Homo sapiens: one gene and its partner. The protein of the gene in region 2 interacts with the protein of the main gene of each other region in a biochemical or structural test. Each region holds a gene or a part of one and is shown on either strand. Other genes may lie near its edges. The genes, in order: TAF1A and ANP32A.

Evidence for each region.
Region 1: the proteins of ANP32A (region 2) and TAF1A form a complex in vitro, tested with the Homo sapiens proteins (one study listed by BioGRID).

Annotation. Positions count from the first base shown.
Region 1 is NC_000001.11:222,558,697-222,565,990, forward strand, and holds part of TAF1A (TATA box-binding protein-associated factor RNA polymerase I subunit A), read right to left. Parts: intron 5,430-7,294; coding exon 5,363-5,429; intron 4,601-5,362; coding exon 4,477-4,600; intron 2,823-4,476; coding exon 2,668-2,822; intron 77-2,667; coding exon 1-76. UniProt on the Homo sapiens protein: Component of the transcription factor SL1/TIF-IB complex, which is involved in the assembly of the PIC (pre-initiation complex) during RNA polymerase I-dependent transcription.
Region 2 is NC_000015.10:68,778,035-68,783,189, forward strand, and holds the end of ANP32A (acidic leucine-rich nuclear phosphoprotein 32 family member A), read right to left. Parts: intron 5,020-5,155; coding exon 4,922-5,019; intron 2,440-4,921; coding exon 2,376-2,439; intron 2,109-2,375; coding exon 2,047-2,108; 3' UTR 501-2,046; downstream 1-500. UniProt on the Homo sapiens protein: Multifunctional protein that is involved in the regulation of many processes including tumor suppression, apoptosis, cell cycle progression or transcription. Promotes apoptosis by favouring the activation of caspase-9/CASP9 and allowing apoptosome formation.

The DNA of each region.
Region 1 (7,294 bases), on a different chromosome or scaffold from region 2:
GATCTCTTCATCCGCTTAATTTTCTTCCCTAAGATTTGGTGATCTTGCTTTAAAATATACCGGAAATATCTACAACCTAAAAAGTTAAGCAAAATAAAAAGTTTTAATACTCATCACATTTTTCAAGTATATTTCTACATTTTAAAAATTCTGCTTTAAGTTTAGCACACTAATGATTATGAAAATAGATTTATTTGTATTATCAATATGTCCTAAGCATATTCTCAGCTGTGCCCAATGAAATACATTTGTTCCTATATACAAAATTTATTTGTATTACCAATATGGCATAAGTATATTCTCAGCTGTGCCCAACGAAACATATTTCTTCCTATATATAAAGATGTTTCTAATCCACCATAATTAAAGCATAGACTTTAGCTTGTTTTCTACTCTTCCTCCTACACCCTAGTGATGGTGACAGGCATATTATATACAGTCACATATTAAATGAGCCTTCTCCAAAAGCACATTCGTATAGCTTCCTTCTCAATGTTAGCTTGTAAATCAGCCAAAGTTACGTTCATAACAGTAAGAAAGTTCTCTGTAGAAAATCTTAGGATGTGAAGGATTAGAATAAACAAATCATAGGTTAGAAACGGTCAAACATTATCTATTCATTCTAGCCATGTAGAGAGCAGCAAGGTGGAGACCATGTAGCTCTCACAGAGGTGCCTCATGCTCATTAGAAGTTCCACCTGCTGTTCATAAGTCTTACAACACACAAAGGACTGTCAAGCATTTGTCAAATATTTCAGACAAATGAATCATATTTCTGTAAGAAAAATGTAAACTGGATATTGAGGTTTTTTAGAGTTGGTAAATGAATAAGACCATAATTCACATATGAAAAATTAATTTCATTACAGTTTCAGCTTGTATGCATCCATCTTCTCTGAGAAAATGCAAGGACATATACTGTACCTATAGTAACCATTTTTATTATTCCTGAAACTAGTATGCCAGAATTGCTAACATCTTTGTTTTGTTGTTTTTCCTGAGATGGGGTCTCACTATGGGACACAAAGTGGTTTCAAACTCCTGGGCTCAAGTAATCCTCCCACCTCAGCCTCCCAAGTAGCTAGGATTACAGGCACACTGCATGCCACCGCACCCAGCTAGTAACGTTTTACTAGCTGGGAAGCAGTGGTGTCTGTAGTGTTACTAAAATAATTTGTATTTCTAAACATATCATACTACCTTAGTAAAAAACAAAATACTTTGCACACAGATTTTTGCCTGTACCTATATAGAAAGCTGGAAAGAATTTCGTTCCCACCCTAACATAGAGAAAAAGCTTAATAAACTAACTCTCAAGTCCATGAGAGCTGAAGTCACAGGGCAACCAAGTAGCTTCAATCCCAACAAGGAAAGACCCCTCCAAGGAGAAATGGGCCTGGCTTGCTTTTAGTGCAGCATGGAAAGAAAGAGAGCCACCATACCCCACTCAAAGCACAAAGCAAAGGCAGACCACACCCAGAATTTGAATCCTATAAAGTAAGGTTGGTAACCAGAGCAAGAAGAAAACCCAGCTTAACTAATGAATAGACTGACTCAACCCCACACTAACAGCCTGAGAGGAGATGTGGCTCTTGCGGGAGTAACTGATGCCTGATATTTGTAGAGCACTTTAGAAATTACAAAGCACTTTGATGCGATGTTCACATGATACTTACAACAATAAGATGGGTGTTACAATGCCCACTTCATAGAAAAGGCTCCTAAAAGTTAATTGCTTGACCTAAGTTAGATAGCAAGGGAGTGAATTGGAAAATTAACCCAGATCTTCCTACTCTGCTCAAAGAGACCTCTTGATAATTGTGCTAGATGCCGCTCTACTCATAAAGTAGAAAAATGACAATCCAAATCACCTTTCTGTTCCTTGTCATCAGTGTATTGATTTTTATTTTCTTCTTAATCAACATTGTATTACATTCACTGAGACTACTAATTCCAAAATAATAGAAACCATATTCAAAAGTGAATTGGAGAATCTCTTCAGGACACCTTAAGCTCCCTAGCAATGGACTGCTTACTAGTGGTCACTGTAAGATTTATTTTCTTCATTTCTGGACATACTCTGTGGTAGTTTCATTTCGGTACTGGCCACCTTTTAATAATTTCAGTGGCAGAAAGCAGGTAAGAATTTTACCACCCAAAATATTTCTTTTCTTTGAAGAAAAAATCAATATCCCTTTTCTTTGAAGAGAATTTTTTTCATATGCTAGTAGGAGGTATTCTTTCTCTTAAGTGGAGGAAATGTTTCACGCTTACAGAAACAGGTAAGTAAATATTAGTATAATATGAAGCTATTAAAGAACAGTGAGGTCAATAAAGAATATTTTGACACTTGAAAATCTCAGTAAACTTTCTATAAAACAAGGCCAAATGGTCAATTATTGTGAAAACTCTGTATCATGTATCTTAATGGCCCCCTAACAACACTCAAGTCAGGAGATGAAAACCGTTCACAATCAATATGAAATCACTGCTTCTAATCTAAGCACATAGTCCCAACTCAGGATTCACTCTTCCATTGAGCAGTTATGTCTTAAGCACCTAATATTTTTAGGTACCATGTTAGGTAAGCTCTAAATGAAGGCCATACTTCATAATTTCAAAATCAGCCAAAGCTGTGTCTAGATAAAACGAAAATAAAAACTGTACCTTTTCCTAACAGTAAACCAGCCACAAAAGCTTTCTCACAGGCCAAAGCTGTATCTTCCTTCCAATCACTTTTTGCCCAAAAGTAGCTGAAATGAAAGCCTGGCCACCAGTTTTTCCTGGAGTTCCACTCTTCTTGAACCCACGCAAGGTGGTTTCTGGAAAAGAAAAATGTCAAAAGAGAGGGTCAATGATGGAAACAAATCTATATTATCAGAATTTAGACTTAACTAGAGTCTACAGAAAGATGACAAGGAAGATGCTTCCAAGCTAAATTCTCAATATGGCCAAGGCATAACACATGATTGGCAACAGCAGGAAAGCAAATCCTTTTTTGTTCTCTTCCATCTCCATATCCCATTTTCCATTTCACTAAACAGACAGTTTAGCACAGTGGTTACAGAACAGACTCGAAGCCAGAATCCTGGATTCAAATATCAGCTCTTCCATCTACTATGTATGTGATCCTGGGCAAGTTGCTGAACCTCTCTGAGCTTCAGTGCCCTTGAGGACATTAGTGGTACTGATCTCATAGGAATGTTATTAAGATTAAACTATTCTAGTAGTAGGGTACAGCAGGTCTCATATAAAGCTCTTTGCATAGTGTCTGGTACATAGTAAATGTTCAATAAATATTATCTATTACTATTACTTAAGTAAAACCTTACTTAAAATTATATGCTGCCATGAATTACTATCCAAATGGAGATACCATTATTATACAAATACATTAAGACATATGTTAAACTGTTAAGTGCAGGCAATTCTGTGTGTCTGTGAATAATTTTTTTTATTGTATATATTTAAGGTATACAACATGTTTCATATACATATAGTTAACTTTTTTGAGTGGTGGGAGCACCTGAACTCTACTCATAGTAAATTTCCTATATGCAATACAATATTAACTACAGTCTACGTTGCACATTAGATCTCTATAATTTAATTGAGCAAATGCTTATTGGCACCCATGTGCCCCCTATGGTAGAACAAATAGAGGTTCGAAAAAATGAACCTCTTTGCTTTCAAGGACCTTATGATCTAGTAGAAGTTTATTCAGGGCTTCAGATTTAGAAAATGCTTTACAGTGAGTGCGTCAACATATGACACCAAAACCATTTTATAAACAGCACTGTCCCATCGGGACAAGTCAGATCTGAAGCCTGAAACAATTTCCAACTGACACTGAATTGCCTAACAACTAAATTGGATATAATAAATATATGAAACAACTTTGTAATATCCCTTCTTCTCACACACTAAGTAAAAATAACAGGAAATTCATTTTCTTTTACTCAAAATGTGACACTAACAATATTATGATCAGAGGTACACTTTTAGATACCCAGGTCAAAATGGATTTAATGAGTATTTGTTAAATGACTAGTGTATGATGATCTTGTCAGGTCCTAAAAATACTCACTGAAAATGATCAAACACAGGTAGGAGGAAAGCTGCTTCCCATGTGATCTTACAAGTTAATGACGCACAAATCACAAAGAGTCTTTAGCAAAGAGTGATCCCTGCTAGTCTTTATTTCCAAATGGAAAACACATACGTATTCCTTAGCAAGCAGTAGTGCTAAGTACAGGATTTATTTTGATGGCATAAAAAAATTGATAGAATTTTTGTATGTTCTCCTTATGACTCTGTATTTCTTTGCTTCAGAAGAAAATGTACTCAGAAAACAGCTGAAGACACAATTCAAGAAATTATAAAACATAAGCAAAGATCTTTAAAAATTGATATTAGCTAAAATATTGGGAAATATTATTTATGATGACCTAGTAATAAACACTGTATGTTTCTTACCCCATTAAGATATTTTTCAGATATTTTGCCAAGTATTTCCAAGCAGTTATATTCTTAGTGCATCCGGCAAAATCTAAGACTCCAAATAATACCTCCAACCCCAGTTTACGGTGTTCTTCTTTTTCTGCAATGGTTTTAACAGTTCAAGTTTACATAAGGTATTAAAGTGTACAAAGCTAAAATTTACATGTATACATTTTATCAACTGTATATATACTTTACATATATGTTGTTGATAAAATACTGAATCATAAGCCTTCTGGTTAACAGTTTTTAAAAATTCATTATGCTCTTACTCCTGCAATGAATCTGAAAAACTCAATAAAAATCCCTGCTAATGAGGTAATGGTGGTGAATTTGATCTCAATATGGGTTACACTCCTCTACTAAGGACATTATTTAAAGTACCTGCCCTGTTTGGGCATTTTATACATGTTCTTTCATATTCAGAGAGGAACCTAGGCAGTCCTAGGACCAGCTTGGGCTTAGCCAGCTGATTTTCTTCTATGAAGGAGCATGCTCTCTTCTATGGTGTGCTGAAATGTAGCAGGGATTAAAATGGAGTGAATTATATAAAATCGAGCCATTTCTCTTTTGCAAACTACTGCCTTCACATTGTGTAACAGGAGTAGGCAAACTTTTTCTATAAAGGCCCAGATAATAAATATTTTAAGCTTTGCAAGGCATACAGTCTCTGTCACAACTACACGGCTCTGTCACTATAGTGCAAAAGCAGCCGCAGACAATACAGAAACAGATGGACTCCAACAGAACTTGATTTATAAAATCAGGAAAGGGGTGGATTTAGCCGATGGGCTAAACTAGTTTGCTGGTCCCTAGTCTATAGCTTGTCTACACAAGGTATAAAACAACATTTATTTATTACCTGATTTTCTAAGTAATGTATGGAATTCCAACATCAATTTATGAGATGGTACAATCTGATACAAAATCTGAAAGAAAGAACAGTCTTGTAATCTTTACATACTTGTAAAAGCATTTCTCAAATTTCAGCTTACTTTCAAAATAAAGTTCTTACTGTCTAATATGCTCCCTTTAAATTTATTAAGTATTTTAAAAATACCCTGGCTCTTTATCTAGTTTCAATCTAAGTATAGAAAAGCATTCTCTGTAAAGCTGTCTTAAAAAAAAAAAAAAAAAAAAGGCCCTGATAACAAAATAGTCAGGAGAAGTGAGGAAAATAGGCAGGGACTTTTTATTTGCTCCTTATACATATCTATACTGTTTACCACGCTCAACAACTAAAAACGATTTCTTTCAGAAGCCAGGACTGAAGAAAAAAAGAAAAAAATCAATTATCACACAGAAAATATACTTATTTACTAAACAGAAGAGATCACAGAATATTTATATAAAGCAAAAAAGCTAAAAAGGCTGGGAGTTAATTTCACAGATTGTGCTCAGGAACAGTTTACTAAGGTTATATGAGTAAATATTTTAACAACCTTTCACACAATGAAAAAATTAAAGATTTTTCTTTTAAAAAATAGGAAGGACTATTTTTATGAATATTCAAAAAATGGAATTTAAAGTAAAGCTGTATTTTTCATTTTAATACATTTAATACTAGAAATGAATTCATTCTGCTTACTAAAGTACTTTGACCTTACATTGAAATAATTTCCAACAAAATTAAAAGTAAATTTTGTTAATTTCTCTTAATCATTTTTAAAAAGATCAATCAAGATCAATACACCAATATCAGAGAATATTATTGAAATTCAGTTCCTATGAAAGTCACATTTGTCTCATGATTTTATAGAATTCTGTATATGGCTCAATTCACTTAGATTTTTCTATTGAAATATAACATGTAGTAGAAGTGCATACAAATCATGACACCAGTCAGTTTTCACAAAGTTAAACACTCAGGTAACCAGCACCCAGATCAAATAATAGCACATCACCAGAACACTAGAAATCCTCCATTTGTTTTGAAAAAGTCTTAGTCATGAGCCCTTCAAATGCCAGTGTTTTTAAAAAATTAGTTTGCTTGCTTTTGCCCTGTTCTATTCAGAGGTCCTCCACCTAGGACTCCAATGACAGGTATGTCAGATCTTTTCACCAATTCACTTGTATGCTCGTTTCTGCACCTTTCATCCTTTTTGTTCTCCATGGTTTAGCCTGATATTTTCTATGCAGTTCATTAATCCTCTCTTTTGCTATGTCCAATCTGCTATTAAACCCATGTATTGAGATCTTAATTCCAAATACCCTATTTTTCAAAAGGAAAAACAGAATTTCTCTAAATCCATCTTGTCTTGAATATAAATATGAGATAAGTATTCAACAGTTATTTTCTGTAGCATTTTAAAAAATCTTTTCAAAAACACCATTAGTGATTGATAACCTGAAAGCACAGTCTTGCTTTTGTTTTAAACACAATCCTTAATATTTTGTAATATAAATGAGCCAAAAGCTATCTTAAGAGAGTAAAATAAAAATAGCAACTTTAAAGGTATTGTTTAGTCCAGCCTGGGCAACATAGCAAAACCCTGTTTCTCCAAAAATACAAAAAATTAGCCAGCCATGGTGGCGTGTGCCTGTAGTCCCAGCTACTCGGGAGGCTGAGGTGGCAGGATCACCTGAGCCAGGGAGGTGGAGGCTACAGGGAGCCTCACGTGATCATGCCATTGCACTCCAGCTTGGGCAACAGAGTGAGACCCTGTTTCAAACAACAACAACAGCAAAGGATTGTTTAGTAAAACAAAGCCTGTTGAAAAATTTATAAAACTTAGTTTCCACATCTGAAGGTTTGATAATGCCAATTTTGATCACGAAAGTATAAAGATAATTG
Region 2 (5,155 bases):
TGAGGTGGGTCACGGGCTCTTCTGGAAACACTTTACACTGCTGGAATCACACAACAACTATAAGACATTGTAAGGAACTAGGGCTTGTTGTGGGTTCAAGGCTGTATAGAATGAATACATAAGAATGAGTATATGTGTACGTGTATAAACAACCACAGTAAACTGGCTGAACTCTTCTGGAAAACATGGAACCTTGTACATGAGCCTCATAAATGTTTTTAGCTTTTGGTCCAATGACTCTACTACTTCTAAGAGTTTGTACTAAGAACTCCACAAAAAGTATAAATAAGTAGTAATATAACAATATCCACTACAGGGGTAAGCTGGACATAATGAAAACATCTAACCATTTGGTTAGAATTAAGTAAATCAGAATATAGTTGATGGACTACTATGTAGCCATTTAAGATACATGCTTTTGAAAATTAAAGAAACAGGGAAATGATTATAATACTGTTAAGTAAAGTAACAAAATAAAACACCATATGTAAACCTCTGGGTTTGTGAAATAATTTGTTTTATAAACATTCCTGAGTTTTCAACCATACATTCTTTTTACAATACGACAAACAAAACAATGAAAGATATTCAAAACAAGGTTCCAAGGTTGGCCCAACTTGATTGTTTGGGTACTTGTTTTTTTAGTAACTCTGTAACTTTTTTAAAGGAAGCTTTTAATGAAGATACACCACTGAGTCTTGCTTTAAGACCAAAAATATCCAAACATAGTATCACATTATATATATCTCATAAGAAAAGCTATTCTATCAGGTAACAAAAATGAAGCTTCCCCCTCACCTAGCAGTTCATCTGGAATGCATCTTGAAAAGATCAATGGCCTGTTGGACTCAAAGAAGCCATCCCCAAAAAAATTGTATAAAAAGATTTATTGAAATTTATCAATGACAAACAGACATAAAACTCAAAGTTTGGCTCTTCTGAGGGGCAGGAGAAAAACTGGTGCAGATGTTCTTTTATACAGATGAAACATGGGTTCAGAAATTACACGTCACTTCTAAAGCAACCAGAAGAGGGACACGAAAGCAAACCTGTACATTCACTAGGAATTTGCAGTCATTTCAGATTTCCACTAGGTAAGAAAATACAATTTTGCGTTAGTTTTTCCGTGCTCGGGTGTATGAAAAAAAAAACCCAGCCGACATGCAGCAACGTCTCCAGCGCTTAGGTCCGTAAAAATGTTCTAAGCACAGAAGTACATGTGGAAGAATTCTCTCATCATTTTTTGTAAAACAAAGCGTTCTAATATTTTACAGAACAAGATAGGACAGTTTTTTTTTTCTTTTAAAGAAGTTGAAGTTTGAAGGTGTGTTTCTTCTAATTTTAATTACCAAATCCATTTTCCTTGTAACTTAACACAACAAGCCTGCGGTTTTCAGCTCTCTGGCTCATAAGCTCAAGAGTAACATCAGAGTCCTCTTTGTAGAGCGAAGCCCACCACCATCTGTGAAGGGGGAAAAGGGATGAGAGATGGGGAATGTCCCCAGACCAGTGCCAAAATACGCCTTTAGGTTGCTATTTACAAACCAGGGCGTTGGATGCCTCTAGCAGGCCTGAGAAAAGCAGGTATCATCATGTGAACCAAAGCAAAAGATATGGCTGGTGCTCAGCCCCTCCTGGGCATTGAGTAACCAAACTGAGACCAGCCACAGCCTTCCAACCAACCCAAGAGACTTGGGAAATACCAGGAAACGTAAGAGAACTCCAAACCATCCTCTTTGAGAGTCAGGAACAAATGCTCACTTAGTGTGTACTTAGCTATCGCATTTACAGGGACAAAAACCGGACACAAAGAAAAAGTAGGGGAAAAAAATAAAGAGTGGCAGTAAAAATAGTATTTTATTCCACCCCCACCCGCCATCCCTCCCCCCGCAACCCCCAGTACACTCTTCCCCTCTCGTTCCCACAGCAACGTTACAATCAGAAAAAAATAAGTTTCAGGGGGCAGGATTGGAGGGGGGGGGGAGAGGGGATATGGGTAAAAACAGTCAAATCACAATAGGAATTTTTCAAAATAGGTTATTCCACTTAGTCATCATCTTCTCCCTCATCTTCAGGTTCTCGTTTTCGCTTCTGACCCCTTTCTTCTTCTGGAAAAGTAAGAAAGCGGCATTTAGATTAGTTATTAATCCCACCTCTTTAACTCAACCCACCCAGTGAGAAGTCAGGGGACCCATGACTAGCAAGCTGTGCCATCCTTGGAAACCGAGGCAAGACATCTGCACAGCTGGAAGGGGAATCTGAGGCCTCTGACAGGAGTGTCCTGCCCACTGCCAGGGGCCTCTGAGTCTAAGCAATCTAAGGCCAAAGTGAAAGGGCCAGGCTGCTACCAGCTGAGAGTAAAAAGGCTGCCATACCACCAAGCTCTTCTTCATCTTCCTCGTCATCTACCTCTCCATCGTTATAACCTTCTTCATCCTCCTAGGAGAAAGGACAGACACCAGAACATTAGAAATGCCCTGCCTTGGGACATGCTGAGGAAGCCACACAGAGCACAAAAAGGCCGGGGTCACCCCCAGCCTCTCAGAGCCCCCACCAAGACTTGACATCTCGGGAGGAATGTAAAGCAGAGGTTCTTAATTTATTTCAGATCAAGGACTCATTGGGAAATCTGCAGAAAGCTTTGAACTCCTTCTCCAGAAAATGTCCGTATCATTTATAATATTTGCAAGCAGTTTCAGGGGGTTATGGATTCCAGGACCCAGGTTAAGAACTCTGATCTGAAGTCCCTGTAAGGCAGGCAGCTCTCCAGTCTGCACATTCTCTGAGGAGAACAAGTTCCCGAGCAGACTCCCTGACGTGCAAAGTAGGCCATCCTTTCTTGCATCTGTCCTCAATCTAGTTTTGGCTTCAAGAGAAGACCCCAGTTTAAGCAAATCCAGATTCTGTGGGCAAGTTCAACGTCACCTGACCCAGCCCCTTCCCTAGCTTGCAAACTTGGACCACCTGGAAGGGTTGGGGAAGATAAATTCAAGACCCCCTGAGGACATCATTCCCAACCGGCTTGAGATTCAGCAAGGTGTATGACTTTCTTTCTCAACACAGGGCCCTTGCTTTCCTCTGCTCCTGAAAGTATATGCAAGTTGAATCTCTGCTTGTTAAACCTGGTTCCTGAAGTTTAAAAGAACTTGGTGACAGACTTCTTTTTTGTCAAGGGAAACATTCTTTTAAAATGTCACCAAAGAGTTCCCTCATCAGTCTGTTTGCTAAGGTTCTGGTTTTTTTTTGCATGTATAAGCTCTCCTTTACTGAAAGCTGGAAATATGCAGATGGTCAGTGAGATTATTTAAAAAACAAAAAACAAAAAACAAAATCCACAACCCTCCCCCATCCCCACCCCCCCAAACCTCACATGCAGCACTCCTGTGACAGGAAGAGGAAGATGTAACAGCTATTAGCCAATACAACTTACTGCCCTGTTCTAGGGGAACCTGTTTTACTAAGACTTTATTTTTAAAATACAATATTCTTTAGAGATGAGCCTAAGAGTCTAGACCTAGGGAGAAGGCAAAGCCAGCAGCACAACTAAACAGAAACCAAGCTCATCTGGCCAGCTTTTTTTTTTTTTTTTAACTGAGTCTCGCTCTATTGCCCAGGCTGGAATGCAGCGGTGCCATCTCGGCTCACTGCAACCTCTGCCTCCCAGGTTCAAGCGATTCGCGTGCCCCAGCCTCCTGTGTAGCTGGAATTATAGGCATCCATCAACATGCCTGGCTAATTTTTATATTTTTAGTAGAGATGGAGTCTCGCCATGTTGCCTAGGCTGGTCTCGATCTCCTGACCTCAAGTGATCCGCCCGCCTCGGCCTCCCAAAGTGCTAGGATTACAGGCGTGAGCCACCGCGCCTGGCCTCCGCGATTCTATTGTCATTGGCCTGTGTCTCTCAAGCCTGGGCCGGCTGGCTGGAACTGGAAGACACTATCTGAGTGAGTCCGTGTGGCAAGCGGATGTGTCTGCATCCTCCATTGAGGGAGACAGGAAACTGCGGGGGGAGTTGGGAGGGGACACAGGCGCCTTGTCCATGCTATTGTCACTTTAAAACTCTCTAGTTCTAACTTTTGCAATTAGCAAGAGTTGATTTAGAATTCTGAGCAAGTCATAGAAAATGACTCTGCTACAGAGAGACTCAGAACACACAAACACAAAACCCAACACAGTGCCAGGAACCTGGAGGAGGGTGTGAACGCCTACAATAAGCAGTCAGACACTTACCCCTTGTCAGACACTGTCCTTAAGCATTTTACTTACACTTCACTTTATCCTCTTAACAACCCTGTGAGAAAGCTATCATGATCCCTATTTTACAGATGAAGAAATAGGCTCAGAAAGGTCAGGTAAATTGTCTGGGGACACACAGCTTGCGAGTGGTAGAGCTGGGACTCACCCCCTCACAGATCTTGTTAAAAAACTGGGAACCAGCCAATCTCTTTAGGAAAATGGCCAACTCCTGGTGCTCTATTTCCATAGTGTCACTCTCTGATTTGGGATCCAGCAGTGTTATCCTGCTACCTATCAGTTCAAGGCAGACTTTGGTTTTCCCTAGCACAGTTTAAGTGCTCAATGAATATCTTAATTAGCATATGAAAGCAAAAAGCAGAAAATGGGGCCATGCATTCTGTACTTCTTCACATAGAAACAACGGCCAGGCTTACCCCAGCAGGTTCAGTCCCTGCCTCTAAAATCCTCTTCCCCTCTTCTAATCCAGCCTCCCCAGAGCTTACTGCAAGTCTTGTCTCCCCAGAAACAGCCCAGTGAAAGGCTCTGAAATGGACTCACTTCACTACCCATCGGGGAGCGACTTTCCTAACCAGGGCTCCGGGGCTGCCAAGACTGATCACAGAGGCAGTCAGTGGGACTGCCTCAAAGGGGCAGACGGTGGCCCTGCCCAGCCCAGCCTCCTTACCTCCTCCTCTCCACTCACGTCCTCCTCTTCACCTTCCTCCTCCTCATCCTCGTCCTCCTCGTCTTCCACTACCTGAGCATCTTCATCATACTCCTCCTCTGTGCAATCGAAATGGGGAACGGAAACAGAACTAGTGGTGAGCTGGCTCCGCCCCCCACACAGCACAGGCCCCTTGTAGCGTCTTCAGTGTGGGGCTCATGACCCTCCCACACCCACCTAAGTCCAAAGATGGAA